Linked DNA regions of Homo sapiens: all the other regions are linked to region 2. The links come from fine-mapping of genetic effects on gene expression. A gene starts in region 2. Each other region holds a variant in brackets. All regions are shown on one strand. Distances are between the middles of the regions.

What was found.
Region 1: its variant is fine-mapped to the expression of LMNB1 in whole blood (INTERVAL, PIP 0.98).
Region 3: its variant is fine-mapped to the expression of LMNB1 in whole blood (TOPMed, PIP above 0.99).
Region 4: its variant is fine-mapped to the expression of LMNB1 in whole blood (INTERVAL, PIP above 0.99).

Annotation. Positions count from the first base shown.
Region 1 is chr5:126,851,312-126,858,965 of GRCh38, reverse strand. No RefSeq gene overlaps it. Among named protein-coding and RNA genes, the nearest start is that of LMNB1, 78 kb to the right of the region's middle. The variant G/A (reference allele first, on the strand shown) is at 3,663.
Region 2 is chr5:126,773,450-126,781,103 of GRCh38, reverse strand. LMNB1 (lamin B1) reads right to left here and starts at 3,968. Exons shown (of 11, transcript NM_005573.4): 1 at 3,237-3,968. The coding sequence starts at 3,595. LMNB1-DT (LMNB1 divergent transcript) reads left to right here and starts at 4,618. Exons shown (of 4, transcript NR_134485.1): 1 at 4,618-4,809. RefSeq lists enhancers at 829-918, 929-998, 2,302-2,391, 3,407-4,207 and silencers at 2,882-2,991, 3,202-3,251, 3,562-3,641, 3,842-4,491, 5,142-5,191.
Region 3 is chr5:126,806,449-126,814,102 of GRCh38, reverse strand. LMNB1 (lamin B1) reads right to left here. Exons shown (of 11, transcript NM_005573.4): 4 at 3,753-3,923; 5 at 2,205-2,330. Among named protein-coding and RNA genes, the nearest start is that of LMNB1, 33 kb to the right of the region's middle. The variant T/C (reference allele first, on the strand shown) is at 4,024.
Region 4 is chr5:126,750,121-126,757,774 of GRCh38, reverse strand. LMNB1-DT (LMNB1 divergent transcript) reads left to right here. Exons shown (of 4, transcript NR_134485.1): 3 at 2,063-2,238; 4 at 5,354-5,812. It also overlaps the pseudogene RNU6-752P. Among named protein-coding and RNA genes, the nearest start is that of LMNB1-DT, 23 kb to the left of the region's middle. RefSeq lists a silencer at 3,369-3,535 and an enhancer at 7,562-7,654. The variant C/T (reference allele first, on the strand shown) is at 3,142.

The DNA.
Region 1 (7,654 bases), 78 kb before region 2:
CCGTGCCCAGCCCACTACCACCTTTTTTCATGTCTCATTATATTTTCCCTGTGATCTCATATTCTCCTGCGGATCTTGACTACCTTGGCTAGTGGTGAGTATTCAGGGTGAGAAGAGCTGAATCCCTGGTGGGTCAGCAGGGAGGGCGGGGCACACACTGAGGGTGGGAGATCCTCTGGGGTTGCCGTTTGGACTCGGCCACTCCCCATTTGCCACAGTTAGCATGTGACTGTGCCCTCAGGGAACCGCCACATACCTCCATCCTGGCGGAAGTTCCATCTCCCTGAATTGCAGTCAGCTCGCCTTTGAAGAGGAGAAGGCTGGGGAAGAGGAAATTCCATGCGGTTGGCAGATCTGCCTGCACGTATTTTGTATGCACCTGCCCCCGTGTGGGTAGAATGCAGCCCTAATCTTACCCTGCTGCCCCGGAGCCACCTATTGCTATTGGTTGTTTTCTGGGGTGTGATGCTTCCATGGAGAAGCATTTCACAGGAGGGAGACAAGGATGCTACTCTCCGCCCATACCTGTCCCCTAGGTGTAGTGTCCTGTTCTCCCCCCGCACCTTCTGTAGCCCCCGTGTTCCCTGTTTTGTTTGGTTTGGTTTTTTTCTCAGACTCACCAACCATTATCTCACTTATTTGGCGCTTGCACGGGTGATTGGGGAAGGGGGCCAAAAGTCAGGGTAAATTTGCCATACTATATGCCATCAGCACTTCTCCAAAAGTCCTTCTTGGAATCCTGCAGTTGCCATGGGGACAGGCCATGGGAAAGAGACCAATCACCTTGGCTCTGGTGCCTTGGCCCCATTCAGCCAGTTTCTCTCTGCTTTATAGAGTGGGGATCTGGGCTAGATTTCACTGGAAAGAAAAGGATTGCGCTCTTAAAAATGATAATGTTGAAATTTGTTAAATCCTGTTTTATTCTAAAATTCTAGGTAGCCTCATCTGGTTCCCTGGTTCATGGGGACTCTGTGTTTACCAAAAGCAGTGAAGTGCTTGGTAGGAAAAAGCCTGCACCGCACGGGTCTGTCTTACATAAAAATGACACCCACACAGCATTCCTGGCTCTCATCCCTTCCCCAGTGCCAGAAAGGAGGCAGCCGTAACTTTCACCCAGCTGCAAATAAGTAATGCTCAGTAGACATATGAACTGTGTTTTACTCTCAGGGGGCTTAAAGACTGCTGACGTTAGGAATTTTTTTTAAGTCAGTCTTGAGATTTGTGAGAGAGAATGTCTGGAAGCCACCAAGAGGGCAGATCTGCAGAACACCGGTCCCAGTGCAGCCAATGCCAGGGAGGCCAGGCAGGCGGCAAGAAGGCCTGCGGTGGGGATATCACCAGCAAAGGGTCAGCTGCATTACTTTTACAATGTAAGAACTGGAACCGTGTTTTCCTGGCCTTTAAACAGTACACTCAGACAGGCTTTTGGGCACTTGGCAATTAACTTTGCTAATGTATAAAATGTCACTGGGTTTTCTCCATCATTGACCTTCCTTGTCACTCCCCCTGCCTCGTAACTGCAGGGCTGAAACTTTGTTAGATGCCTCTGGTTTGGCAGCTGAGGGTGCCCACGGCTCAGCCATGTCCATAAGACACCACATGATAGGTGCCCTGCTCACTCAAGGCTTGCCTCTATAAGGGCCTCTCAGCCACTAGGAGCCCAGGGAGACCAGGCTGAGCTGGCCCAGACATGGAGGTGAGATAAGGAGAGTCTAGGGAAGCCATCTAAGACTCTATCATCTGGGTATTGGTGGCTCTATTCTAGAGTCTGTGTGAGGGCCCAGGACTCAGTCCTCGTGGGCAACATCTTACAGCAAAATTAGCAGTCCTGAGTTAGGAGGTCTGCTATGTGAGGAGAGATTCCCCAGAAGCATGCACCATTCTGGACAGTACGCCAGGGTCGTGGGCAGCTCTGGCCGGGTCAACCTTTGCAGCTCCACAGAATCTTTGCATTGTGGGAGCTCTTAGGAGGAAGAGGAAAAAATCTAACATTTGTTAGTAAATCTGCTTCATCCCAGATGAGAAGGACTAAGAATCAGTCTCGGCCATGGTCTGCAAAAGTCAAGGGACTTCAGTTTTCTTGTTTTGGGGTGGTTTTTGTTTTTTTTGTTTTGTTTTCTTTTTTTAAGACAGGGTCTTGCTTTGTTGCCCAGGCTGGAGTGCAGTGGTGAGATCACAGCTCACTGTAGCCTCAATCTCCTGGGCTCAGGTGATCTGCCTACCTCAGCCTCCCAAGTAGCTAGGACTACAGGTGTGCAACACCAAGCCTGACTAATTTTGTGTGTGTATGTGTGTAGAGACTGGGTTTTGCCATGTTGCCCAGGTTGGTCTCAAAGTGGAGATCTCACCACTGCACACCAGCAATAGAGCAAGACTCTGTCTCAAACATAAAATAAAATATAAAATAAAATAAAATAGGCTGGGCGCGGTGGCTCACGCCTGTAATCCCAGCACTTTGCGAGGCCGAGGTGGGCGGATCACGAGGTCAGGAGATCAAGACCATCTTGGCTAACACAGTGAAACCCGGTCTCCACTAAAAATACAAAAAATTAGCCAGGCGTGGTGGCGGGCGCCTGTAGTCCCAGCTACTCCGGGGGCTGAGGCAGGAGAATGGTGTGAACCCGGGAGGCGGAGCTTGCAGTGAGCCGAGATAGCGCTACTGCAGTCTGGCCTGGGCGAAAGAGTGAGACTCTGTCTCAAAAATAAAAAATAAAATAAAATATGTACTGTGTACTTGAAAGTTGCTAAAAAAAAAAAAGTAGATCTTAAATGTTTTCACCACAAGAAAGATAGCTTGATGTAATCATTTCACAATGTATACATATGTCAAAACATCACATTTAACATCATAAATACATAAAATTTTTGTCAGTTATACCTCAATAAAGTGAACAGGAGAAAATAGAATATTATGTGACATACAGCGCATATGTAAATATTATCTTTAGTATATTCTGAAGAGTAAAATTGTATTACAAACTAAAAAAAAAAAAGTCATGCTATTAATGCTATATCTGGGATTCACTTTAAAATAATCCAAAAGATGACAGAGTAGAAGGTGCAAGTATGGATGAAATAAGATTGGCCACATGTAGGTAATTGTTGACTTCAGGTGATGTGTATATGGTATTCATTATACTACTCTCCAGTTTTATATAGGTTTAAGTTTTCCATTTGTGAAATCACTTGTATTTAAAAAAAAAGAGTTGGGCACTGCTGCCTGATATACGCTCTCTCTAAAAGAATTCACTGCTCTGCAGGGACTGGTTGCTGAGCAGAAGGGAGCCTATAGCTCATAGGCTGTAGGCTCAAGGTTGGTCATTTTACATAGAGATGTTAAGTATATGAAATCAAACATGATCAGAGTAGTACAGTAAGGCAATGGGCTGACTGTGCAGTAATTGTAGATAGGGGAAGGGAAGCAGAGGTCAGAGAAGAGGCCTCAGGCTCAGTGCCAAGAATGATGCTTTTGGTCACGGACAAAAGGGCTTCAGAGCATCCCGTTAAAAAAGAAAACCCACATCCTGCTGAGATTGGAGGCGGCCGATAAGGCTGTCGCCCATCTGACAGTGCTACAGTGATGGAGGCATCCCACCACACTCTAGAAACAAAAAGAAGACAAATGTCAACAGATGCCTCGATTCTGCTATCATCAAGTGTGC[G/A]TGTGCACATGGCTTGGTTTGAGGCAGGGGATGCGGGTTCCATGATGAGAGGGATGATTCTCATTAGCTTGTTCTCGATGCTGTCTTTGTGCGCCACAAGGTTAATACAGGAAATATGAAAGGCGCTCAGACTGCCAGGAGCAGCTGCTCGTGGGTAGGTCAGCCCTGAGCAAACCTTCCTTAGGTCCAGACCATGACTGTCCTGCCAATTGTTCATAGTGAGAGGTGACAGCGTGCTGGCAGCCCTCGCTCGCTCTTGGCGCCTCCTCGACCTCCGCGCCCACTCTGGCCGCGCTTGAGGAGCCCTTCAGCCTGCCGCTGCACTGTGGGAGCTCCACTCTGGGCTGGCCGAGGCTGGAGCTGGCTCCCTCTGCTTGTGGGGAGGTGTGGAGGGAGAGGCGCCGGTGGGAACCAGGGTTGGGCGCACACTTGCAGGCCAGCGTGAGTTCCGGGTGGGCGTGGGCTCGGCAGGCCCCCGCACTCCGAGCAGCCGGCCTGCGCCCCCAGCCCGGGGGCAGTGAGGGGCTTAGCACCTGGGCCAGCAGCTGCAGAGGGGGGCGCCAGGTCCCCCAGCACAGCCGGCCTGCCCGTGCCATGCTCAAATTCTCGACGGGCCTCCACTGCCACCCAGCCGGGCAGGGCTGGGGACCTGTAAGCAGCCATGCCCTACCCCCCGCCCCCCCCCCCCCCCCCGGCCCCTGCACTAGGCTCCCGCTCAGCCTGAGCCTCCCGGACGGGTGCCGCCCCCTGGTAGGAGGCACCAGGTCCCATCAACCACCCAAGGCCTGAGGAGTGCAGGCGCACGGTGTGGTACTGGCGGGCAGCTCCCCCAGCAGCCCTGGCACCGCAACCACTAGGCAAAGCCAGCTGGGCTCCTGAGTCAGGTGGGGACTTGGAGATCTTTTATGTCTAGCTAGAGGATTGTAAATGCACCAATCAGCACTCTGTGTCTCGCTAAAGGTTTGTAAATGCACCAATCAGTGCTCTGTGTCTAGCTAATCTAGTGGGGACTTGGAGAACTTTTGTGTCTGGCTCAGGGATTGTAAGCACACCAATCAGCACCCCGTCAAAACAGACCAATCAGCTCTCTGTAAAACAGACCAAACAGCTCTCTGTAAAATGGACCAATCAGCAGGATGTGGGTGGGGCCATATAAGGGAATAAAAGCAGGCTGCCCGAACCAGTAGTGGCAATCAGGTGAGGTCCTCTTTCCTGCCGCGGAGGTTTTTTTTCTTTTGCTCTTTGTAATAAATCTCGCTGCTGCTCGCTTTTTGGGTCTGTACTGCCTTTATGAGCTGTAACACCCAACACGAAGATCTGCAGCTTCACTTCTGAGGCCAGCCAGACCACGAACCCACCGGGAGGAATGAACAACTCCAAGAGCGCAGCCTTAAGAGCTATAACCATTTGCCGCGAAAGTCTGCAGCTTCAGTCCGGAAGCCAGCGAGACCACGAACCCACCAGAAAGAAGAAACTCTGAACACGTCCGAACATCAGAAGGAACAAACTCCAGACACACCATCTTTAAGAACTGTAACACTCACCGCGAGGGTCCGTGGCTTCATTCTTGAAGGCAGTGAGACCAAGAACCCACCAATTTCCGACACAATAGCACCCAAGCATCAACTTCACTCTGGTGGCTGGCGGGGGCCACTAGGAGGGCACATCCTCTGTAATCCATCCCAACGTGGGACATGGAGGGTGGGCTGTGTGTCACAGGGCGGAGCAACGATCTCTGCCACCTGAACGACGAAACAGGAGAAAAGCTTGTGAAACAAAGCCCTCCATGGCCCAGGTGAAGAAAAACATCTAGACAGATGAGCAAAATGGGTTTCCTCTCCTAGCGGAAAACTTACCATTTTAAAAGGTTATTCTGACCCAGAAAATAACGCTCTTGCCCTCCCCCCACCCCCAACACCCCACACACATACATCATGCATGAATACACACTGAAAAACTATGGCACAGACACACAGTCACACGCAGCATTAGAAGAATCCTGGGCCAGGTCAACTCTGTTGTCAGTATCAGCAAGTCTCAAAGTGAGCCCTCTGAAACCCCTGTGATCCCCTCTCCTCCCTCTCCCACACTCGTGATGACAGCTCCTTGTGGCTAAGTTCAGCACCAAGTAAGGAAGAAGTGCCTGCAACAAGCTTGCTTGAGGAGGAAAAACAGTAAGGCGGCAGGTGTCGGAAGCAAGTCACCCCCGGGAAAAGTCAGGGAGAAGTGGCCACATGCCCCTCTGGGGTCAGGATTAGAGCTCAGAAAATGACTCATTTGTCTCTACAACCCCGCAGTAGCGCTTCCAAACATGAGAGGGGGGTCACAAGCCCAGACAGGGTGAATTTGTTATTAAACAAACCAATGGAGGGCAGGCAGCACATATGTTCACGTTTCCTGCCTCTCCCATCTCTTTTTGGAACTGAATGAGCCCCTTCAAACAGCAGGCTTTTGGAATCCTGTCAGTTTCCTCGTTTACCACAGAGACAATATCTGCGCACTAAATAGTTTCCCAACTATAACCCTCCAAAATCAGGCTGGGCGCGGTGGCTCACGCCTGTCATCCCAGCACTTTGGGAGGCGGAAGCAGGTGGATCACTTCAGGTCAGAAGTTCAAGACCAGCCTGGCCAACATGGTGAAACCCCGTCTCTACTGAAAATACAAAAACTAGCCAGGTGTGGTGGCACACACCTGTAATCCCGGGATTACAGGAGGCTGAGGCAGGAGAATCTCTTGAGCCTAGGAGGTGAAGATTGCAGTGAGCTGAGATCGTGCCACAGCACTACAGCCTGGGCAAGAGTGAGACTCTGTCTCAAACAAAACAAAACAAAAAAGTCATTTGCATCAAGTCAGCCACTTCCTGCAGAGTCTGTTGAAGAGCACACACAGAAAAACAAATTGCCTAAGAGCAAGGTACCCTGGAGTACTCCGTTAAGGGGCTGATCTCATTACCGTAGTTTAGGATTCAGGTGCCAAGGATGACAAAATGAACTGCCTTGCTTTATTTCATAATTCAGTGTTTCCCAGCCTTCCACTATTCATTTTGGGAAAGAGTTGTCAAAAACCCATAGTTATTTCTCCCAGCAACCTGGGAGGGGAAGGAAGGAAAGTCACTCAGGCTTAGTCACATGTCTTTCTGGCGTGCCAGAGGCTTTGTCCATTGGGGATACTTCAATCCTCTTTCCCAGCTGAGGCCTTAAACTATTTGTTTAAATGAAAATCTGAAATAAAACTACAGCTGTTATCAAGAACAGGCAGGAGATCCTGTCATCTTGGTTCCATGGATCAAGCAGAGGGCCAGTGTTCAGTGTTTGTGAAGAGCACCGGCGTGATTTTCCAGCAGCGGAGGACAGCCCCAATGCAGTGTGCAGCCCTGTGAGCTGGGGAAGGCAGACAGAGGTTGGCCAACTGGCAGGAGCCAGAAGATTTTCTTCATGTTCGGGTCTCAATGGAAAACTCAGAAGTGACTGCCAAACACGTTCCGGGAATCTTCTCCATTTCCCATTTGAGCGCTGAGCACACGGGGCACCTCCACAGTCACAGTCTTCTTCGGTTTTAAACAACAGGGGCAAAGGTTCCAATGTGACCAACCTGTCACAAGTACTGACAGTATTCACAAATGCCTTCTTCCTGCCAGAAATGCAGAGAGACCCAACCAGGCACCCGGCACCTCCACACGGTGGAGACAAGCCACGTGACTGAGTGTTTAAAGCAAAGAGAAGGGAAATCACAGCATTGAAAAATGATTTGGAACAAACAAGCACGATGGAGGCCACTTCGGGGGAAAGCTGACATTTGTCTAAAATGGAAAAATCCAAACGCACTTTCCAAAGCATCAAGCTGGGAATAGTCATTGTCCCTCATATAATATTCAATTTGCAACAGGAAAAAAGCAGATTTTGCCACTTATTTAAGTGTTGCTTTTACTTGTCCAAACCGGGTAGGTATAGGGTGGAAGAGGATGTGAGTTATGATTCTCCCAGGTGGGGAT
Region 2 (7,654 bases):
TTGGACAGGCTAGTCTTGAACTCCTGACTTCAGGTGATCCACCTGCCTAGGCCTCTCAAAGTGCTTTACAGGTGTGAGCCACCGTGCCTGGCCAGGAAGCTGTCTTTAATAAGTTACAGGACATCAGTACACAGCCTACCTTAAGCAAAGAGAACTCTAGGGAAGAAAGCAGATTCATGTGATAGATATTATGATTAAATATCTTCAAAAAGTCTGCAAACACACTGAGGGCAAATTTTTCTTAACAAGAAAAATGAAAAGCTATTGAGGAATAAATCCATATAAAAAAAGTCCTAATTCAAATAAGGAGCAAACTAAAATGTGGCATGTTTTGAGCAAATGATGGTATGTTGGGGGGAAAAGAAGAGTCATCTAATCCTGGCAATAGGAATATACATACAGTAGCACAGACTTAAGAAAAATATAATCCCAGAACACTACTAACCCTCAGAGAATAGGTACTGTCAACTCCTCAGACAGGCCTTCCTTAATCACACTAACCCTTCACTCCGCTTTATTTTTATTCCCTTAGCATCTGCTATTACCTAAATTGTATCACATGCATTATTTCATTGATTCTAATACACATTATTCTCATTTTTTAACCCCGCTGAAACCAGCATGCATTTTAGAATCGATACATTTACAACTACTGTCAGCCAGGTGGCAGCCTTGTTACTGTGTGAAAAACCTCCTGTGGCTAACTCCTGGAAAGATTACAAAAGCGCCAGCATCAAAATGCTTCACATCAGACAAAAGACAATCTTTCTTTACTTGCTGGGATATAGCTCCCCCACTACACTCTCAGCAACAAAGAACAGTAATTCATTTTTTTAAAAAAATCTTCATATCCTCTAACATAGAACGGTGACTGGTACGCAACAGATATTTGATCTGTGTTAATTTTTTTTTTTAGACGGAGTCTCACTCTGTCACCCAGGCTGGAGTGCAGTGGACCATCTGGCTCACTGCAGCCTCTGCCTCCTGGATATCAAGCGATTCTCCTGCCTCAGCCTCCCCAGTAGCTGGGATTACAGACGCCCGCCACCACGCCCGGATTTTTTTTCTTTTTTGAGATGGGGTCTCACTCTGTCGCCAGGCTGGGGTGCAATGGCGCAATCTCAGCTCACTGCAATATCCGCCTCCTGGGTTCAAGCGATTCTCCTGCCTCAGCCTCCCAAGTAGCTGAGACTACAGATGCATGCCACCACGTCTGGATAATTTTTTGTATTTTTAGTAGAGACGGGGTTTCACCTTGTTAGCCAGGATGGCCTCGATCTCCTGACCTCGTGATCCGCCCGCCTCGGCCTCCCAAAGTGCTGGGATTACAGGCGTGAGCCCCCGCGTCCGGCCAATTTTTGTATTTTTAGTAGAGACGGGGTTTCACCATATTGGTCAGGCTGGTCTCGAACTCCTGACCTCAAGTGATCCGCTCACCTCGCCTCCCAAAGCGCTGGGATTACAGGCGTGAGCCACCACGCCCGGCCCTGTTTGACATTTTAATATCTATGAAACCCATCATGATGGGTCCAACAGGATGGATCCTACACAGTTGGTCCTGATGTTTTTATTTTCTTAGTGGTACACATAATAATGGCAAGTCTTACAAGCAACGATATCTAAGATTTGAAGGAATTCAGTGGCAAAAAATTTGGAGGAACATAGAAATAATAGTGTGAGTTAACTGACTGCTCATTTTAAAAGATGAAACCAAGGCTTAGTAAATCCAAGAAAGGGAAATACAAGCTTAGTATTATTTTCGAGTTGTATAACTAAATATCCAAAGAAATAAAAACAAAAAGGGATAAATGTGATTGCCTCCGGAAAGAGGTAGTGCAGTTATCGTTTTTCGCTACAAACCAGTCTATACTATTTTATTCTTACCACGTGCACATGCTTTTTTATGAACCGAAAACATATGATAGGAGGGATAAGTAAAAATACACAAAATCTCAGAGACTTCGGACAGGGACATTCACGCAGATACAGACAGAAAGACATCCAGGGGCAAAGGGTGTCAAAGTGAGAATAAGGTACCTCCAGAAATTTCAGCTGGCAGTGCTAATGGCGACCATGAATTTCAGACCCAAATTTTGCAAATCTCTAAAGCATGACATCAACACTTGTTGCCTACTGATGACAGGCCATTTTGCTTATCAGAAAGTCAAAATAAGGCCAGCAAAGGTCTGCAAATGTATCCTTGTGCACTGGAATGAAAACTCGCACTCGCTTAGGTGAATTACAAACTCTCCTTCGCTCAAACACTCAGCATTTACACAGCACCCTGTCACCTGCCCTGGTCTACTATCTGCACAGTGGTCGACTAAGGGGTACTAAGCACAGTCTCTACCCGAAAGCCTGACTATACTACGAGGAGGCAAAAGCTGGGGACAGAGGGCCGCTGCCTGAGGGGTAGGAGAACCGCAATTCTAAGAACGGTAGCCGTGACATGCACAAACCCAGCTTTCCTTCCCTGCGCAGAACCACCCGAGGGACCGCACCATCCCCGCTGGGACAGGACACATTTCCCCAGAGAAAGCTAACCAGCTAGCAAACCTAACTTGCCCGGGGCTGGCTGGAGGCGCACGGATCAAGCTCCGCCTCTCTCTCCCGCCTAAAGCAGGCGTAGAATCTTCGCAAAACGTCACAGGGCCAAGACTGAGCGCGCCAAAGCGGGACCCACCCCCAGGAGACGCGGATGCTGCGGGAAGGTCCCTCCCCTTCCTCTCTCTGCCCGCGCGAAGCTCATTCATTCTAGAGGCGGGCTGCCAGTCCTCCCCGGCCGCCCATCCCGGCACTGCAAATCCGCTAGACGCTTTGTCTCGCGCCGGCCGGAAACTGGGGCGCGCACGCGAGCGCGCGCTCGCGCTCCAGCTCCCCGCACCTGGGGCCTGAGGGGCCGCCTCTCCGCGCCGGCTCCCCGGATTCGAGTGCGAAAGCGGGAGCTCCTTCTCGGCAGTCCCAGGCGCGCACTTACCACGTCCCAGCGGGTATCCAAAATCTAGAAATGGGCATCACGGCCCCCCAGCGCTACAGCTCGAGCCCCCTCCGCGACCCCTGCTCCGCTATGAACTCTAGATTCTTTCTCCTTTCCGGAGACCGAGACCCTGTTCCTTCAGAAGGACGCGTGCATCCTGGCCTCTGCTCCCTCCCCACGGCAGAACCCGGTGAGCTGGTCGCCGCGGTTGCGCCCCCGCCCCTCCTTGGCGCTAACGCGGCCGCCAGCTAGCACTCACTTGAGGAGCAGCTGGTCGTGTTCCGCCTTGCACTTGCCCAGCTCGATCTGCAGCTTGGCGCGCTCGCGGGCCGTGTCGTCGAGCGCGCGTCGCGCGTCGGCCAGCTCGGTCTCGTAGAGCGCCTTGAGGCCGGTGAGCTCACGGCCGCGCACCTCCTCGCGCTCCGTCACCTGCAGCTGCAGCGCGCTGTTCTCCGTCTCCAGGCTGCGCACCTTGTCGATGTACACCGCCAGCCGGTCATTGAGCTCGCGCAGCTCCTCCTTCTCCTGGAGCCGCGACAGGCGCGTGGGGCTCAGCGGCGTGGTGGGGCCGCCAGCGCGGCTGCCCATCCGCGGCGGCACGGGGGTCGCAGTCGCCATGGCGGGCGGCGGAGACAGCGGGGCGGCGAGGCCGCGAGCGGGACCGTGATAAGGAGGGGACGGCAGGGGGCGAAGCGGGGACCGAAGGCACAAACCGGCGACCTGCGCTCACGTCCAGACGCTGGCGTTTAGAGGAACGGAGAAGCACCTGGGATGGCGGGAGCTCGATTACAGCACAAAGGGCAAAGGCGCGCGGGGGGGAACTACGAATCAATCGATCGATCGCGAAATACCCTTTGTAAGAAAACACACACACCCACTCACACACGCACGCGGGAAAATGCAAGACGAGGGTGACTGGAGGCCCAGCAGGGTTCGCGCCGCCGCCGTCTCCTGCTCGCAGCACTTTGTTTCCTCTCAGGCTGCACGGAGCGGCGGGCGGGGGGAGGAGGGCCGGGAGGGGCGGGCTGGAGGCAAGCCGCGGGGGGCGGAGGTGGCGCGGGCCGCGGCGCCGCACTCCCCAACATGGCCGGCACGCCCCGGCGCCTCCACGTGACTACCATGGGCCAATGGGGAGCAGGCAGCGCGCTTCGGCGGTTCGGGGGCCGGGCCTGTAAATTTAAAATCTGGCCCTTGGGCAACCGTCAGCTCGGCCCTCCCGGCTGGGCGGTTCCCGGACCAGGCTCAGGGCTGTAAGGAAGGACGCCTGGGACTGCCCACCCGCGCGGCTCTGGGCCCAGGGCCCTCCCGCCGCCCCGCGGGGACCCCTTGGAGGGGCCGGGCCTGAGAAAGGCGGGAAGGAGCCCGGAGGTTTCCGGGACGGATCTGCGCCACCGCCCACACTCGGCGGTTCAGGGAAATTCAAATATAAACGTCCCTAAAAGCCACACGCGAAACTCAGAGTGTCCCCGGCCACCGCGGGCGTGGTAACCTTATCCCCCGCTCCGCTGGAGGGCTCGGGAAACGGCCTGGAGGCCGGGACGCTGTGGAATTACGTAATAGGCACTTGAGTCCGAGGTTCCAAATGCACGGCTTGCAGGTTCCAAGTACCAGCCTTTATTTTTCTCTCCGGTGGAAAACTGTATCAGGCAACTTCTTTCCATGAAAGTGAGATCTGTGCGTCTTGAAGCCGATAGATTATCACAGAAAAACCAGCAACCCTGATTTTAAATCATTTGCCAACAGTGTTAATGGGCGGTTCCTAATCCGTTTCTTAATTTAAGGGTTTGTAAAATCAAAAAACAGCTCAGAAATGATACGATTAACATATGACGGTGAGTAACTACGAGAGCAAGCTGTTTCATACTCCGTTAAAATCAGGTACATAAAAATCTGAACTTGTGAAAATTTAAGATGAAATAATTTTTTGCTTTTAAAAAGAGGCTCCCAAGATGTCACTGGCAGCTACTTCTATTAGAAAGCACATTCATCCCTTTGAAAAGTTCCTAATTTTTAGCTAACATTTATTGGGACTGAGTGCCAGCACCAGGCTTTTCATGGATTACCCATCCACACAATCTCCGTGTGATGTGGGAAACTGGATTGTTTCTATTTGAAAATTCATCCGGGCGGGCGCGGTGGCTCACGCCTATAATCCCAACACTTTGGGAGGCCGAGTGGGGGAGGATCACCTGAGCTCAGGAGTTCAAGACCAGCCTGACCAACATGGTGAAACCCCGTCTCTACAAAAATACAAAAATTAGCCGGGCATGATGGCGGGTGCCTGTAATCTCAGCTACTTGGAAGGCTGAGGTGGGAGAATCCCTTGAACCCGGAAAGGGGAAGTTGCAGTGAGCCGAGATGGCACCATTACACTCCAGCCTGGGTGACAGGGAGACCCCGTCTCAAAAAAGAAAGAAAGAAACCATCCATTTTATAGATTCACTGTCTGAAGGCTGCTCCGCAGGACTGCGTTTGACAGGTCCCAGGATTCTAATTGACTCGAGTCTGGCCCTTAGCTATACCCTAGATGACCACCTTACCACCTATTAGGAACGCTTCTGTAATTAATGGTTACTTACTTTTAAAATGGCAGAAATGGAGACCAGGATATTCTTTAACTGTTAATCAAGTCATGTACATAAGAATTAGTGAAGAGCACTGGGAGCTGCATATTCATCCCAGATGAATTTTTGGCACTCTGTGAATGATGACATTCTCCTTATTAATGGTTCTATTTCCTGTCCGGTTTCCTAAAATACTTCCTTGCTTTTTGGGGGGTGGGGGGGTGGGGGGGAGGATGGCAGGGAGACGGAGTCTTGCTCTGTCGCCCAGGCTGGAGTGCAATGGCACAATCTCAGCTCACTGCAACTTCCACCTCCCGGGTTCAAGCGATTCTCCTGCCTCAGCCTCCTGAGTAGCTGGGACCAACGCCACCATACCCGGCTAATTTTTTGTATTTTAGTAGAGACTGGGCTTCACCGTGTTGCCCAGGCTGGCCTCGAACTCCTGATCTCAGGCAATCCGCCCGCCTCGGCCTCCCAAAGTGCTAGAATTACAGGCGTGAGCCACCGCGCCTGGCCATGAAATACTTCCTTTCTTAACCTCATTGAGAAATAAAGAATCGAAAAGCTTAGACTTTAAGTATTCAAGTAATCTTAAAGGGAACTTTAAAATCTAAATTACTGATGAGAAAACCGGCCGGGTGTGGTGGCTCAGCCTGTAATCCCAGCACTTTGGGAGGCCGAGGTGGGCAGATCACTTGAGGTCGGGAGTTCCAGACCAGCCTGTCAACATAGTGAAACCCCGCCTCTACTGAAAATACAAAAATTAGCGGGGTGTGGTGGCGCGCGCCTGTAGTCCCAGCTACTCCGGAGGCTGAGGCAGGAGGCAGGAGAATCGCTTGAACCTCAGAGGCAGAGGTTGCAGTGAGCTGAGATTGCGACACTGCCTAGGCGTCAAAGCAAGACCCTATCTGCAAAAAAATAAAAAAAATTTTTTAAAGTTAAATAAAATAAATTACCGATGAGGAAATTAGACCAAAAGAAGGTGAGTGCTGGGTCCCAGGCTGTGGAACCAGGATTGGAATGTAAATCTGCTTGTTCTCACTTGGTTGTGAGACCCTTTCCACTACGACAGGTGATATAGTCAATCCATATGGTTTTATGGTTTTCATTCCTTGCTCCCCTTTACCTGTCTTTTAAAAATACTTGGTTGGGAGGCCGAGGCGGGCGGATCACGAGGTCAAGAGATGGAGACCATCCTGGCCAACATAGTGAAACCCCGTCTCTACTAAAACTACAAAAAAAAAAAAAAAAAAAAATAGCTGGGCGTGGTGGCACGTGCCTGTAGTCCCAGCTACTCGAGAGGCTGAGGCAGGCGAATGGCTTGAACCCGGGAAGCGGAGGTTGTCGTGAGCCGAGATCGCGCCACTGCACTCCAGCCTGGCGACAGAGCGAGACTCCGTCTCAAAAAAAAAAAAAAAAAATTGTCAGTTTTCTTTTAAAATTATTTCCTGTCCATTTTTTAAGTTTTAAGATTATATGTGATTCCAGCAATGATCTCTATTGCTCTCAACCCCATGAAGCTTTGTTTTTTGTTTTTGTTTTTGTTTTTTTTTTGAGACAGAGTTTCGTTCTTCTTGCCCAAGCTGGAGTGCAGTGGCGCGATGTCAGCTCACCACAACCTCCATCTCCTACCTCCTGGAGGGTTCAAGCGATTCTCCTACCTCAGCCTCCCGAGTAGCTGGGATTACAGGCCTGCGCCACCACACCGGGCTAATTTTGTATTTTTAGTAGAGACGAGGTTTCATCATGTTGGTCGGGCTGGTCTCCAACTCCTGACCTCGTGATCCACCAGCCTCAGCCTCCCAAAATGCTGGGATCGTAGGCGTGAGCCACCACGCCCGGCCTGAAGCTTTCTATTGATAGAGTTCCTCAATTTTCAGATTATTTGAAGAGGCTCACATTATACATATCCTATTATATAAAACAACTTTCTTGGAGTCAGACAATTGAGGATGTGCTACTGATAGCTGTATAACTTTAAGAAAATTATTCCGTGATTTCCTTCAAGGAAAATGGAAATGGAGCCGGGCACAGTGGCTCACGCCTGTAATCTCAGCACTTTGGGAGGCTGAGGCGGGCGGATGACGAGGTGAAGAGATCGAGACCATCCTGG
Region 3 (7,654 bases), 33 kb before region 2:
ACCAACATGGAGAAACCCTGTCTCTACCAAAAATACAAAATTAGCAGGGTGTGGTGGTGCATGCCGGTAATCCCAGCTACTAGGGAAGCTAAGGCAGGGGAATTGCTTAAACCTGGGAGGCGGAGGTTGCAGTGAGCCGAGATTGCGCCATTGCACTACAGCCTGGGCAACAAGAACGAAATTCTGTCTCAGAAGAAAAAAAAACAACAAGAAAAACAAAGACAGTGATACAGTCTGTGTGTTTGTGTTCCCACAAATTTCATGTTTAAATCCTAACCCTCAAGGTGATGATATTAAGAGGTAGGGCCTTTGAGTGGTAATTAGATCATGAGAGGAAAGCCCTAGTGAATGGGATTCATGCCCTTATAATATAGGGCCAAGGGTGCTCATTCACCCTTTAACCATGTGAGGACACAGCAAGAAGGCACCATCTATAAATCGGGGAACAGCCCTCACCAGGCAGATATCCAATCTGCCAGTGCCTTGATCTTGGACTTCCCAGCCTCCAAAACTGTGAGAAATAATTTCTGACATATCTGTTGTTTATAAGCTACCAAGTCAATAGTAGTTTGTTATAGCAGCCCAAAAGGACTAAGACAGATGGTGCAATGGAAAAAAAGATTATCTGTTAAATTTCTAAAAGTAAATCTTCTTTGAAGAAAATGAGTTATAAAAGGAAAAACTGGGAAGGAGTAGAGAAACCCATTTATCAGTCTGCAGCCTCTGGGCAACGGGCAAATCATTAAACTCACCTAGATCTGTGGTTACATGGAATGAACTCAGAGGTGCTTCCAGCTCTGCTATTAAATGAAAATCTTCAAAACACTATCAGCACAAAATAGGTTTAAAATAATTTAAAAATTTGTGCCGTAAGTAACAAAGCACATGATAGACAGTGTAAAAGCCCCTGTGTTAACTAAATTATTTTATATCACCCCATTTTATGGGACTCATTTTCTGCTTTATTTCTAAGTTCCTGCAACAGAGGTCATCAGTTTTATAATTAGAAAAATATTTTACTAAAAATGGTAAAAAGAAAAAGGAAGGAAGAAAAGCCCAATCAAGAGTAAAATAGGCTGGGCACGGTGGCTCACGCCTGTAATCCCAGCACTCTGGGAAGCCGAGGCGGGTGGATCATGAGGTCAGGAGATCGAGACCATCCTGGCTAACACGGTGAAACCCCGTCTCTACTAAAAATACAAAAATTAGCCGGGCGTGGTGGCACGCACTTGTAGTCCCAGCTACTTGGGAGGCTGAGGCAGGAGAATGGCGTGAACCCGGGAGGCGGAGCTCACAGTGAGCCGAGATCGTACCACTGCACTCCAGCCTGGGCGACAGAGTGAGACTCCATCTCAAAAAGAAAAAAAAAAAAAAAAAAAAAAAAGTAAAATAAAGTTTATTCTCATGTGGAAAATTCAAAACAAGATTTCCTCCCTTGAGGAAAATAGAAGCGGAAGTTATTTCCAAAATAATTAAGGTGACGAGTTAATTGCTGAATCATTCTGAATGCAGTATATGGAGTATATGTACTTTGTGTCCACACTGACATCACCCTAGGCTAAAACTGATCTGAAGTAGTGTCCATGCCTGCTTAAGCAGCACCTGAAGCACACCATCACACCCTGATAGGCAGCCAGTCAACACAGCCGGCAATAATGCCATTTGTCACTTAGGCGTACCAACGAATGAATGAGTCACTAAATTCTTATCGGAATATGCAAATTAAAGCTACTTTCCTGGATCCTAATTGTTATATACTTTAAGCACTAAAGAATTTGTCTAGAAACACAAAGCATTCACCACCCACAAAGAATTTTTGCATGTTTTTCTTCATTTTGGTTTTCAAATGATATAAAAAAGGAAGGTGTTGAGAATAACTCTGTAGAGATGAAGCTGTTAGACAGGTCGGAAGATCCGGGTCCTAGGGTAAGTACAGTGAATAAACTAGCAGGCTCCTTCCTCAAGGGCAAGTCCCTTAGCTCTGTGTAATCTACTAATTAGGAACAATAGTATCTGCTCACAGGATGTTTATGCAATGCAAAATGAACGAATCTAGAAAAGTACTGTGAAGACGAAAGCACAGGATGACACCATCCTCTGTAACAAACAGAGGGAGGAGTGACATCAGCCCAAGCAAAGCAGGTAGGTGCCCGTGGTGAAGGTAGCCTTCAAGTCTAACTTCTTACAGAAAGATGATTATTTACCTCTTTCTGTAGATTAGAAAGCTGGGATGAAAGGCTCTCAATTCTCATGCGGCTTTCCATCAGTTCTTCCCTGGCACTGTTGACAGTAGAAGTATTCATCTCTGATGACAGTCTGGCATTCTCAAGCTAAAAGAAGAAGCAAAGCATAGTCAGTCTTATCTAGAACTGAAACAAAAAAGGAAGCATGATTCACCTCAAGGCATTTCAAACCTAAGTCCTGCTGGTAACTGGTAGATGAAACACAGGAAAAGCATCATGAAGTTTGCTGATATGGTGTGAATGATGGTAATTCTGTGTGACTTTTAGAGTCACTTCCTAAATAATGAGCTTTAAGAATGCTAATATACCTAGGCCTTTACCCAAAGCTTATTACTTCAATATTTCATCTATTAAACCTTTAATGTCTAAGATAACACTGATAATAAGAAGACTGGGCAATAGCAACTTGACTGTGGTGGTGTCTGTAAGAAAAGAAACATCACATATCCCTAACCCACCAAATCCAATACAGAATGTAAACCAACAAGCAGAAAATACTAGTTTATAGATTCGTTCAAACCAGATAGAAACACTTCCTTTCAGAAGCAAAAAAAACTCCTTGAGTAAAATACAAATCCCATAACACTATTGTGTATGTGTGTCTCAGGGACATGCTCCTGTGTCTCCTCCCTGGCTCCCTGTGAGGCCACAGTCTGTGACGGATCCTTACTTTAGCTCCTTCACTGTATAGCTCAATGTGTGATATTAGATAAATGTTATACAACTGAAGTTACTGCTTATAATAAGATCTTTCACTTTCACTAACTGCTACTTCATACAATAGATAAAAAGCAACATGAACAGTTTAAAGCCATGCAATGAAAATTTTCAATAACTCTGTGACTCTAATATTCTAAGTCAACCACAAAAAAGTCTTTTTAATCAAATCATGTAACATTTAAAACACAAGGCAAAATCATTTACCAGGGAAAGCCTGTACTAGTTGGTGATTTTTATGAATTCTTGTAAGGTCAGCTAATATAAGTGGGAAGTTTCTACAATATTTTTTTAAGTGAATAATAGTGACAGAAGAAGAAATAGCAGAGACTTTCCATTTGGCCCTTATGCAAAAAAGCCGGAAGTGTGGTAGTCACAATCTATGCACAATGATGACATGAAAGTGAGATCTAATGCAGTCTGACATTCATTCATTACTAAATGGATGTTTATGTAGGACAGCATGATCAGTACTTGTTATTGGAAGAAAGTTATTTCACATGGTTTGGGTTCAACTACTATGGCATAGTACGAATGATCAATGGGACAAAAAGACAAAACCTAACCTCTAATAAAATTGCAACAACCCTACATTCTTCTAGTAATTTTTAATAACATTTAGTTTATAGAAAACTGCACTTTTTTGAAAAAATCAATTTTCTATATATTTCATGGAGACTAGGGGAATCATTTTTAAAAACTAGAACAAAATAAACATAAAGCCATGTTCATCATGGGAATTGTGAAGTAATGATTTTAAGTGTTCAAAAGAATCTTCTGAAGAGAGCTCACTTTGGCATGGTAAGTCTGCTCCAGCTCCTCCTTATACAGCCTCACTTGGGCATCATGTTGCTCTCTCATCTCATGAAGGGCTTGCGCCAGCTTGTACTCATACTCAATTTGACGCCCAGAATCCACCTCTACCAAGCGCGTTTCATGCTTCCTTCTGGTCTCGTTAATCTCCTGGGGAAAAAACAAAAAGCATAAAGCCAAGCTACTTACCATGGCTGCATTGGTACACATCTGAGTGACATCACAGCCATCTGAAGTTTTACACACGAAC[T/C]TCCTCCTGTTTGTCCTCAGGCGGTCATGTGAATAAACACTTTTTTGCCTCTTAGTTTTCAGTTGAGGTTTTTGAAATGGAACTAATGACAGAAGTGGTAGCATCTCAAGCCTTAGGAACTTTCTATTCCTTTTCAGGAGCATAGCTATTTATTTTTCTGAAGCCAAGGAAAGGCCTGGATGGCCTACTAAAACTATCTGCAATCAAGGATTTATACACAGTATACTATACTAAACACTAAGCAAAAATTATTTTTCTGAATTGTTTCATTGATAATCTTAAGAACATCTCTGAAAAAACAGCACATGGAAAGTTAAACTTAACAGTTGTGATAAATTCATGTAAAGATTTATGTGAAATGAAACTATTTTCTTTTCTTTTCTTTTCTTTTCTGAGATAGAGTATCACTCTGTCGCCCAGGCTGTTGTGCAATGGTATGATCTCAGCTCACTACAACCTCCGCCTCCCGGGTTCAAGCAATTCTCCTGCATCAGCCTCCCTAGTAACTGGGATTACAGGCACATACCACCATGCCCAGCTAATTTTTGTATTTTTAGTAGAGATGAGATTTCCCCATGTTGGCCAGACTGGTCTCAAACTCCTGACCTCAGGTGATCCATCTGCCTCAGCCACTCAAGTTGCTGGGATTACAGGTGTGAACCACCTTGCCCAGCCATAAAACCATTTTCTTAGACATAATAATAGGCAGCACAAGCTAATTTACATGACTTCTTTAAAAGCCGGTATTAAGCTATCATTATCAAGTGACACAGGATCTTATTAACAATATTAGTTGACTAACTCAAATATTTATGAAAAATTTACCATTGAAGAATAGAAGTAGTTGTCATGATCCTTTCCTTTACTCTGTTTTAAGGAAGTGTCTAAATAAAATTAGAATGGAAGGCTGGGCGCGGTGGCTCACGCCTGTAATCCTAGCACTTTGGGAGGCCAAGGCAATCAGATCACCTGAGGTGAGGAGTTCAAGACCAGCCTGGCCAATATGGTAAAACCCTGTCTCTACTAAAATACAAAAATTAGTCAGCCATGATGGAGGGTGCCTGTAATCCCAGCTACTCAGGAGGCTGAGATGGGAGAATCACTTGAACCTGGGAGACGGTGGTTGCAGTGAGCCAAGATCGCACCACTGCATTCCAGCCTGGGCAGCTGAGCTGGACTCCGTCTCAAAAAAAAAAAAATAATAATTAGAATGGTAATATCTGAAGAAGCCACAAGAGGGAAGTATAACCCACCAAAGTTGCTGTTTGTGTATATTAGCGCATGTATTTTCCTTTGCATTTCTTCATCTTTCTCTTAACTACTACACAGGAGCATGCACTTGACAAAATCTGAAAAATCAGAAAAATCAGGAGGATTCTGCTATCACCTTCCCAGAGATCACATCTATTTCATGAAGCAAATAATACCTAAATCACAAAAATACTGAAGAGTGACTGCTAATGGTTTGTTCTTTGTCTACCTCCTCCTTCCTCTTTCGTCTTTCTCCTTCCTTTTTTCCCCCAACTGTTCATAATAAGGAAGTTAGATATTATTACTGAATATATATCATGAATGTAAAAAAAAAAAGTTAAGGCCAGCGTAGTGGCTCACACCTGTAATCCCAGCACTTTGGGAGGCTGAGGCGAGTGGCTCACCTGAGGCCAGGAGTTTTAGACCAGCCTGGCCAACATGGTATTACTTAGTAAAAAGTAAGGAAAAAAAAAAAAAGTTAGCCAGTTGTGAGGGTGTGAACCTGTAATCCCAGCTACTCGTGAGGCTGAGGCACAAGAATCATTTGAATCCAGGAGGCACAGGTTGCAGTGAGCCAAGACCGTACCACTGCACACCAGCCTGGGCAACAGAGTGAGACTCTGTCTCACACAAAAAAATTTTTTTTAAAGTAAAAAAGGCCAGGTGCGGTGGCTCACAACTATAATCCCAGCACTTTGGGAGGCCGAGGCAGATGGAGCACTTGAGTTCAGGAGTTCGAGACCAGCCTGGCCAATGTGGTGAAACCCTGTCTCTACTAAAAATACAAAACTTAGCCGGGCATGGTGGCACATGCCTGTAGACCCAGTTACTCCAGAGGCTGAAGCAGAAGAATCGCTTGAACCCAGGAGGTGGAGGTTGCAGTGAGCCAAGATCGTACTACTGCACTCCAGCCTGGGCGAGAGAGCAGGACTCTGTCTCCAAAAAGAGTTAAAAAAAACAAAAACAAAAACAAAACTGAAGAGGACTATCTTAACATCCATTCTCAAAAAGGCAAAGGCCAAAAATTCAAAGATGCTATGCACTCTAAAAATATTAAATTACTTTTTACTGATGCTATTTTTTATATAGAACCAGTGACCTTACAAAGAAAAAAAACCCTACTCCTGGTTGTCTACACACAACATCAGAAATAAGTAATGATAAATCACAATTTTTACAAAACAAAACAAAAATGTAAGTCAACCTCATATCAAAATATCTGCTTTAACAAAGCAACACTTAGTAACAATTATATGACAGCACTTGCTACAGTATCCAAAGAGTTTTCACACACAGTATTCCACTTTGATCCTTACCACTCATTGAAGAAAAAAATAGCAGTATTAGTATTTCATTTTAAATAAGAAACTGACACTAAGAGTTGTCCAAGGTCTGACTGCTTGTCTGGTGCACCTTGCACTAATATCTATTTTGTTTAAAGCCTGTAATTTTAAAAAATAATCAGATTTCTATTATTTTTCCTCCAACTAAAAAACTGGTTTGCTAACTGCTACAATGAATTCCTATTTGCACTGTTTTCAAAATTACACTACTTCTAAAAACATTAAGCCTAGCACATTAACAGCATGTTCTCCCCCATGAGTTGATTTCAACCCTCTACAATTTTCATGAAATATACATTCCCCTTTCCTCAATTTTATTACTTCCTTTGTTTGACAACGGTTTTGCCCCTGCCCCTTGACCACAGCAGTTAAGGCTTATAAGTGATATTTTAAGATTTCCACATGAGTGAGCCGGGCACGGTGGCTCACGCCTGTAATCCCAGCACTTTGGGAGGCTGAGGCGGGCCAATCACAAGGTCAGGAGATTGAGACCATCCTGGCTAACACGGTGGAACCTCGTCTCTATTAAAAATACAAAAAATTAGCAGGGCGTGGGTGCATGCGCCTGTAGTCCCAGCTACTAGGGGGGCTAAGGCAGGAGAATAGCTTGAACCCAGGAGGCAGAGGTTGCAGTGAGCCAAGATCATGCCACTGCATTCCAGCCTGGGCGACAGAGCGGGTCTCGTGTCTCAAAAAAAAAAAAATTTACACGCCTATAAATGCTGTGAGTAGCCGCATTTCCAGATGTGAGCCATAGGAGAAGGCCAAAGTGATGGTATGTAACCTCTGTGATTAGGTTATAGAAGACAATCTGGCTTCTGCCTTGGTAGCTGGTAGCATGTATTCATGTTCTCGTTGTGTTTCTTTCTCTCTCTCTCTCTCTTTCTCATCACTGACCCTTAGGGGGGCCATATCATGAGCAGCCCTATGAAGAAGACCATGAGGTGAGGAACTGACACGTCCTGCCCACAGCCCTGTGAAAGAGCTCAGATGCCATTCCTCCAGCCCAGGTTAAAAGCTGTACTGCAACCTCATGG
Region 4 (7,654 bases), 23 kb after region 2:
GAAAATAAACTTTGAAAATTTCAAAACTGTAAATATTGGCTTAGAATATGAATCCGATTAGAATCTTAGAGATAAGCTGTAGCTAAGCTTACTATGAAAAGACTTGCTCCACAGTTGTATTCAAAAGCAACAATGTAAACTTGGAAAAGAAGACAAACTATAAAAAACTATGGGGTTTTGATGCCAGAATTTTTACCTCGCTATAATAACTTGGTAGAATAAATTGTCCAAGTGTATCTTTTTAATAACAGAAGGAAAGGGAAGCAAACCAACTTTAGTTTAGAATAGTTTTCTAAGTTAGATGAAATAATGCTGTGACCCAGATCTGAACAGAACACCAGATGCTTCCTACCTACAGGAGACATTTGCAAATTTTTTGGTTGCTCACCCTCTGAACTGTCTTCCTACGTTTGAGGAATTCCTCACCATTTGAGTCTTAGTAAGAAACAGGGTCCTGCTCCCACTCTAGATGCTAAAAAGCCATCCACCCATGTCAGCCAACTATTTCTTTTGCAGGCCTAGGTGTCGCCAATCAGGTGTACCAGCTCCAGATTTTTTTTTTTATACAGGATCTCGCTCTGTCGCCCAGGCAGGAAAGTGCAGTGGCATGATGTTGGCTCACTGCAACCTCCGCACCACCACATCCAGCTATTTTTTCGTAGAGACAAAAAATGTTGCCCAGGCTGGCCTCAAACTCCTGAGTTCAAGCAATCCAGCTGCCTCGGCCTCCCAGAGTGCTAGGATTACAGGTGTGAGCCACCATGCCTAGCTCCAGAATTTTGACTTTGGAGCCAGTCAGTCAAAGCAATGGAAGAAAGGCGCATCCATTCTGGTAGCCACACCCAGTTTCAAAAGGCAGTCAGGGCTGGATGCTGTGGCTCACGCCTGTAATCCTAAAACTTTGGGAGGCCAAGGTGAGCAAGTCACTTGAGGTCAGGAGTTCGAGACCAGCCCAGCCAATATGGTGAAACCATGTCTCTACTAAAAGTACAAAAATTAGCTAGACTTGGTGGTGCACGCCTGTAATCCCAGCTACTTGGGAGGCTAAATCACGAGAATTGCTTGAACCTGTGAGGCCCAAGTTGCAGTGAGTGGAGATCACACCACTGCACTCCAGCCTGGGTGACAGAGCAAGACTCCATTTCTGGAAAAAAAAAAAAAAAAAAAGGCAGCGGGGACGACAGCACGATCCTACGTGCTGGTGAGTGTGGCAGCTGTAGACTCTCCTCCTTCTTGGCAGCAGCAATGACCTGCTCAGACACATCCTGGGACCCCGGTATGTAGCCTCCTTTGACCTTGGACTTCTTGCCCTCCCGTGATTCTGTGAGCTACCCAAAATGTTTTCAGTACTGTCCTTTTCTGCTTATGCCAGAATCAACTTCTGTTACTGATTCTAAAGAACCCTAAGGGACACAGAGCCTCTGGAATAGTGACTTAGAATAAAAAAAGAGAGGCTGGGTGCGGTGGCTCACGCCTGTAATCCCAGCACTTTGGGAGGCCGAGACAGGCGGATCACGAGGTCAGCAGATCCAGACCATCCTGGCTAACACGGTGAAACCCCGTCTCCACTAAAAATACAAAAAATTAGCCGGGTGTGGTGGCGGATGCCTGTAGTCCCAGCTACTCGGGAGGCTGAGGCAGGAGAATGGCGTGAACCCGGGAGGCTGAGCTTGTAGTGAGCCGAGATGGTGCCACTGCACTCCAGCCTGGGCGACAGAGCAAGACTCCGTCTCAAAAAAAAAAAAAAAAGAATTAAAAAGAGAGAGGAACCAGGGCACGAAATATAGTTTCTTATAAGCTGTATACTACTCACAAAAGACATCTAATTGAAGATAAGATCATTAATTTATGTGTATATTTTTCCTTAGTGTAAGCCAGGGAGGTGTGTCCAGGAGGACACACGGGGGAGTGGGGAGGCTGCAGAGGACAGGTGGGAGGGGCGGCAGGAGAGAGAAGGGGCCCCGGGGGGAGAGGTGGCTTTCACTGGCAGTTGGGAAATAGTGAAGGGAAACCTCATCCCTTTATCGAGGTCTAGGCCCCAAAACTCTTTTGCAAAATGCAGGGCTTGTATCTGAAGGCCTCTGGCCAATGTGCCTGCTGCCATTTCCTCTGTCCCTGAGGTCTCCAGAAGAGAAAGGAGCTCCAGCCTTGCATTCTTTGGGTGTGGAGAGGAGCAGAGCAGAATGGAGCCTGCAGGTCATGCCAGGAGTCACCGCAAGGCTGTGGCTGTCAGCTCAGGTACCAAGCTCAGGCACGCGGTTGTAAGAACACCTGGGGTGGAAAGCCATGTGCAGAGGATGATGATATTAAACAACCTCTTTTACAAACAAAACTCTTTTAGTCTAAGCCTAATTATAGTGCTCCCTTTGGCTGTACATACACTAAAATTGGAATGATACAGAGATTAGCATGGTCCCTGTGCAAGTATAATGCAAATCTGTGAAGCTTCCATTAAAAAAAAAAAACTGGAGGCCGGGCGCAGTGGCTCATGCTTGTAATCCCAGCACTTTGAGAGGCCGAAGTGGGCGGATCATGAGGTCAAGAGATCGAGACCATCCTGGCCAACATTGTGAAGCCCCATCTCTACTAAAAATACAAAAATTAGCTGGGCGTGATGGCTCACACCTGTAGTCCCAGCTACTCAGGAGGCCGAGGCAGGAGAATCGTTTGAACCCAGGAGGCGGAGGATGCAGTGAGCCGAGATTGTGCCACTGCATTCCAGCCTGGCTACAGAGCGAGACTCCGTCTCGGAAAAAAAAAAAAAAGGGGGAAGAAAATACAGCCTGGACATATATCAAGGCCTTCTCTCTAGAAAAATAAAAATAAATATAAAAATTAGCCAGGCGTGATGACTTTCACCTGTACTTCCAGCTGAGGCTGAGGTAAGTTGGAGGATGGCTTGACCCTGGGAGGTCGAGGCTGCAGTGAGCCTTGAAGCCATGATTGCACCATTGCACTCCAGCCTGAGTGACACAGCGAGATCCCATCTCAAAAAAAAAAAAAAAAAAAAAAAAGGCCTAGTTATAATAGAGCAATATTCTTAAGTGTTTTGTTTGGTGTGATGAAAAAGTTTGGAAATAGTGCTAATGGTTGCACAACATCATAAATGTAAGTAGTGGCACTGAATTGTACACTTAAAAA[C/T]GGTGAAGATGGCAAGTTTTGTTGCATATATTTTACCATAATTTTTATTTTTCACAATTTTTAAAAATTAATAATTTTATATACCAAAACCCATTGAACTATACACTTTAAGTAGATAAATTTTATAATATGTGAGTTATGTCTCAACAAAGCTGTTTTCGCTTTTATTTTTTTGAGACAGAGTCTGGCTCTGTTGCCCAGGCTGGAGTGCAGTGGAGTGATCTTGGATCACTGCAACCTCTGCCTCCCAGGTTCAAGAGATTCTCCCGCCTCAGCCTCCCAAGTAGCTGCTATAACAGGCATGCACCACGCCCAGCTAATTTTTGTGTTTTATTTATTTATTTATTTTGAGTTGGAGTTTTGCTCTTGTTGCCCAGGCTGGAGTGCAATGGTGCAATCTCAGCTCACTGCAACTTCCGCCTCCTGGGTTCAAGCGATTCTCCTGCCTCAGCCTCCCAAGTAGCTGGGATTACAGATGTGCCACTGTGCCCAGCTAATTTTGTATTTTTAGTAGAGATGGGGTTTCTCCACGTAAGTCAGGCTGGTCTCCAACTCCCGACCTCAGGTGATCTGCCCACCTCAGCCTCCCACAGCACCCAGCCTTAATTAATTTTTTTTTTTTTTTTTTTTGAGACGGAGTCTCTTTCTGTCGCCCAGGCTGGAGTGCAGTGGCACGATCTCGGCTCACTGCAAGCTCCGCCTCCCGGGTTCACGCCATTCTCCTGCCTCAGCCTCCCGAGTAGCTGGGACTACAGGTGCCCGCCACCACACCTGGCTAATTTTTTTGTATTTTTAGTAGAGATGGGGTTTCGCCATGTTCTCCAGGATGGTCTCGATCTCCTGATCTTGCGATCTGCCCTGCCTCAGCCTCCCAAAGTGCTGGGATTACAGGTGTGAGCCACCATGTCCAGCCTAATTTTTTTTTTAAGGCTGAATAATAGAATGTTAGGAAAGAGCATGTCAGTTAATGTGATGATCACTGTATATAGAAAATAAGCAAAACTTGCCTTTAGCTGTAATACATGATTATAACATTAAAGTCTATGTGTGGTTGGCAATGCACTGCCCCCAGTGCTCTCTGAGAATCTCCTGATGTGTCCTCAGGAGTGGATGCTTCTCAGCCTTGTTTCTGCTGTGTGGTTCTATCCTATCATATTATCATCGCTCACTGGCCCAGAGGTGACCCCGAGCAAAGAAGGAGCAATTAGCTTCTCTTTTCCAGGAAGTAGACATTTTGATGAAGAAGCGCTTGAGGCAGCACTCTAAGGAGAAGGTCTCTGCATGAGTGCATGCTCACAGAGTTCTCCAGATGTGCCCTGGCTTCTGTCCCCTTGAGGCCTGGTCTCCCACTCTTCCTCGGATTCAGGGTTGCTCTGGTATTCTAGTAGTGCCTCTACCCCCTTGTGTTTTTGTTTTTTGCTTAAGCTGTTTTAGTTTTTAGTCCCTTGTGACCAGAGAATATTTAATTTAATATAATACAGCACAAATATTTAATATGATATTATTTCAGTGCTAACACAGAATTTCTGGCTTATGGTAAAATAAAGATCATACGGTCATCTGCCACTTCCCACTGTCCTTTCTGAAGTACAAGAACTCCAAACAGCTACAGCTGATGTGTTTTTTTTGTTTGTTTGTTTTTTAATTATTACACTTTAAGTTTTAGGGTACATGTGCACAACGTGCACGTTAGTTACATATGTATACATGTGCCATGCTGGTGCGCTGCACCCATTAACTCGTCATTTAGCATTAGGTGTATCTCCTAATGCTATCCCTCCCCCCTCCCCCCACCCCACAACAGTCCCCAGAGTGTGATGTTCCCCTTCCTGTGTCCATGTGTTCTCACTGTTCAATTCCCACCTATGAGTGAGAACATGCGGTGTTTGGTTTTTTGTCCTTGCGATAGTTTACTGAGAATGATGATTTCCAATTTCATTCATGTCCCTACAAAGGACATGAACTCATCATTTTTTATGGCTGCATAGTATTCCATGGTGTATATGTGCCACATTTTCTTAAAGCTGATGTGTTTTAAATTATTTGAAGGTAAGTTAACACAATGTTTTAGAAAATCACTTAAGGACTCTGGGGGAAATATGAGGTCTGTTAACTTAAATGTTTTTTTTTTTTGTCCTGGGTAGTTTTTGTGGGGTTTTTTTGTTTTTTGTTTTTTTGTTTTTAAGTAAAAATACGTTATACTTCCTTTCAGAATTCCATCATCACTTGGGAGATTTCTGCGAATCATCACTAAAGCCATTCACTTTCTCATAACTAAACAAGAATCTTCTTCTGGAGTTAAGTATCAGATATGAATGTTCTCACTGACCTCAGGAAGCAAAAGTCCTAAATCATTATATGGCAGTGAAGGTACAAAAAAAAAAAAAAATCAGCAGGAAATAAAGCGGAACTGCTGCCAACACATACAAGCTGCAGTAGCACCCACAAAATGTGTAGTATCTATTCTAACACATTCATTGGACTGATTACATTGGCTCATAGACTTGGTTAACTCTGGAAGAACATAATAGGTGTTTATTGTTTACTATGGGGATGGGAAACATAATTAAGTCTATAGTCTCCAATTCTTCTCAAGTTCAAATGAAACCAACACTTTTGGTTTTGTCTTAACATTCAGGATGTGTTTCTAATTAAACTGAAATCACAGTAAGCACCTCCACTTTCTTTCTTGGGATCTCTATCATGAAAATTAATTGTGTGATTTTCCCCTCCCACCCAACCCCGCTTCTTCTGGAAAAAGCTATATTTACACTTGCTATACCTGAAAATCCCCATTTGGGGCAGAGTAGGCATTATGGCATTTGTCTGATCTCTGGTGTGCCCAAAAAGAAATCGCCTGAAACTGGGGGCATATTAAGAATGCAAATGGTGATTTGGGTTAGAGTTCCAACCTGTAGCTAACTAGAACATCCTTTCATTGACTTCTACTCTCTCAATTAGTGTTTTGTTTTTTTTTTTGGTTTTTTTTTTTTGAGACGGAGTCTTGCTCTGCCGGCAGGCTGGAGTGATGCAGCACGATCTTGGCTCACTGCAACCTCCGACTTCCTGGTTCAAGTGATTCTCCTGCCTCAGCCTCCCAAGTAGCTGGGATTACAGGCACGTGCCACCACGCCCAGATAATTTTTGTATTTTTAGCAGAGACAGGGTTTCACTATGTTGGCCAGGATTGTCTTGAACTCCTGACCTCGTGATCCGCCTGCCTTGAGCCTCTCAAAGTGCTGGGATTATAGGTGTGAGCCACTGCGCCCGGCCTTTTTTTTTTTTTTTTTTTTTTTTGAGATGGAGTCTCGCTCTGTTGCCCAGGCTGGAGTGCAGTGGCTTGATCTCGGCTCACTGCAACCTCCAACTCCCGAGTTCAAGCAATTATCTTGCCTCAACCTCTCCAGTAGCTGGGATTACATGTGCCTGCCACAGGGTTTCACCATGTTGGACCAGGTTGGTCTCGAACTCCTGGCCTCAGATTATCTGCCCGCCTCGGTCTCCCAAAGTGCTGGGATTACAAGCATGAGTCACTGGGCCTGGCCTAGTGTTCTTTATCACTCAAATAATTGTTAGACGATCTTAAGAGAACTCCTAGTCCTACGTTTTTGTGAGGATGTCTTATAAGACCACACATTTCCTGGTCTAAATGCAAATTTCAAACATCTCTTAGAGGTTTTTTCGTTAAGTTCAGTGAGTGAGTCTTATTGTTACCTACAGGTAGTTGGATAGGCAGGAGCCAGACAGGAGAGGGCTCTCCCCCACCCACTAAGCCTATCAGCAATTACGGCATTGCCTCTCCGAGTGCGATAATTCGGCAGCGCCAGGGAAAAGGCATTTCCTGAGGGTCCACACCTGTTAATATGAAATGTTAATTGAATGCAAGCCTCAGGGAGAAGAAACTTCCTGGGCATGCATATTAAGAGGCAAAAATGGCGAATTATGATCTTCCAGGTAAACTCCACCGGCAAAAGGAAGAAAGCCTCAGATAGGCATGCTTATGACTCCCTAAACACACTGCGCTGTGCTCAATTCCAAAGGGTAAGGAGGGCACTGTGCAGGCGGGCAGCCCACCCTAAGGGAAGAATCATGGGAAAGAGGTGAGCTTATACAAGTCCTAGTATCACCGGGCGCGGTGGTTCATGCCTGTAATCACACCGCTGCACTCCAGCCTGGTGACAGAGGGAGACTCCGTCTCAAAAAAAAAGTCCTAGTATCACAGTTAAATGGGGCACTTGACTCTCCCTTTTTGTTCTTTGGGTCTCTTCCAAGTGTGCTTTCCTTCTTTCCTATTCTAAAGCCGTTTTAAACAAACTTCTATTCCTGCTCCGAAACTTGTCTCGCTCCTTATGCCCTTCAGTAGAATTCTTTCTTCTGAGAAGGCAAGAACCAAAGTTGCTGCGTACCTATACAGATGTAAGGCTGGATAGGTGGCTGGTAACTCAGGGTGGCTCTGATCTCTTCCGCTGGTAACATTATTGTCAGCGGAAACTGACAATTCCCGCCACACTGA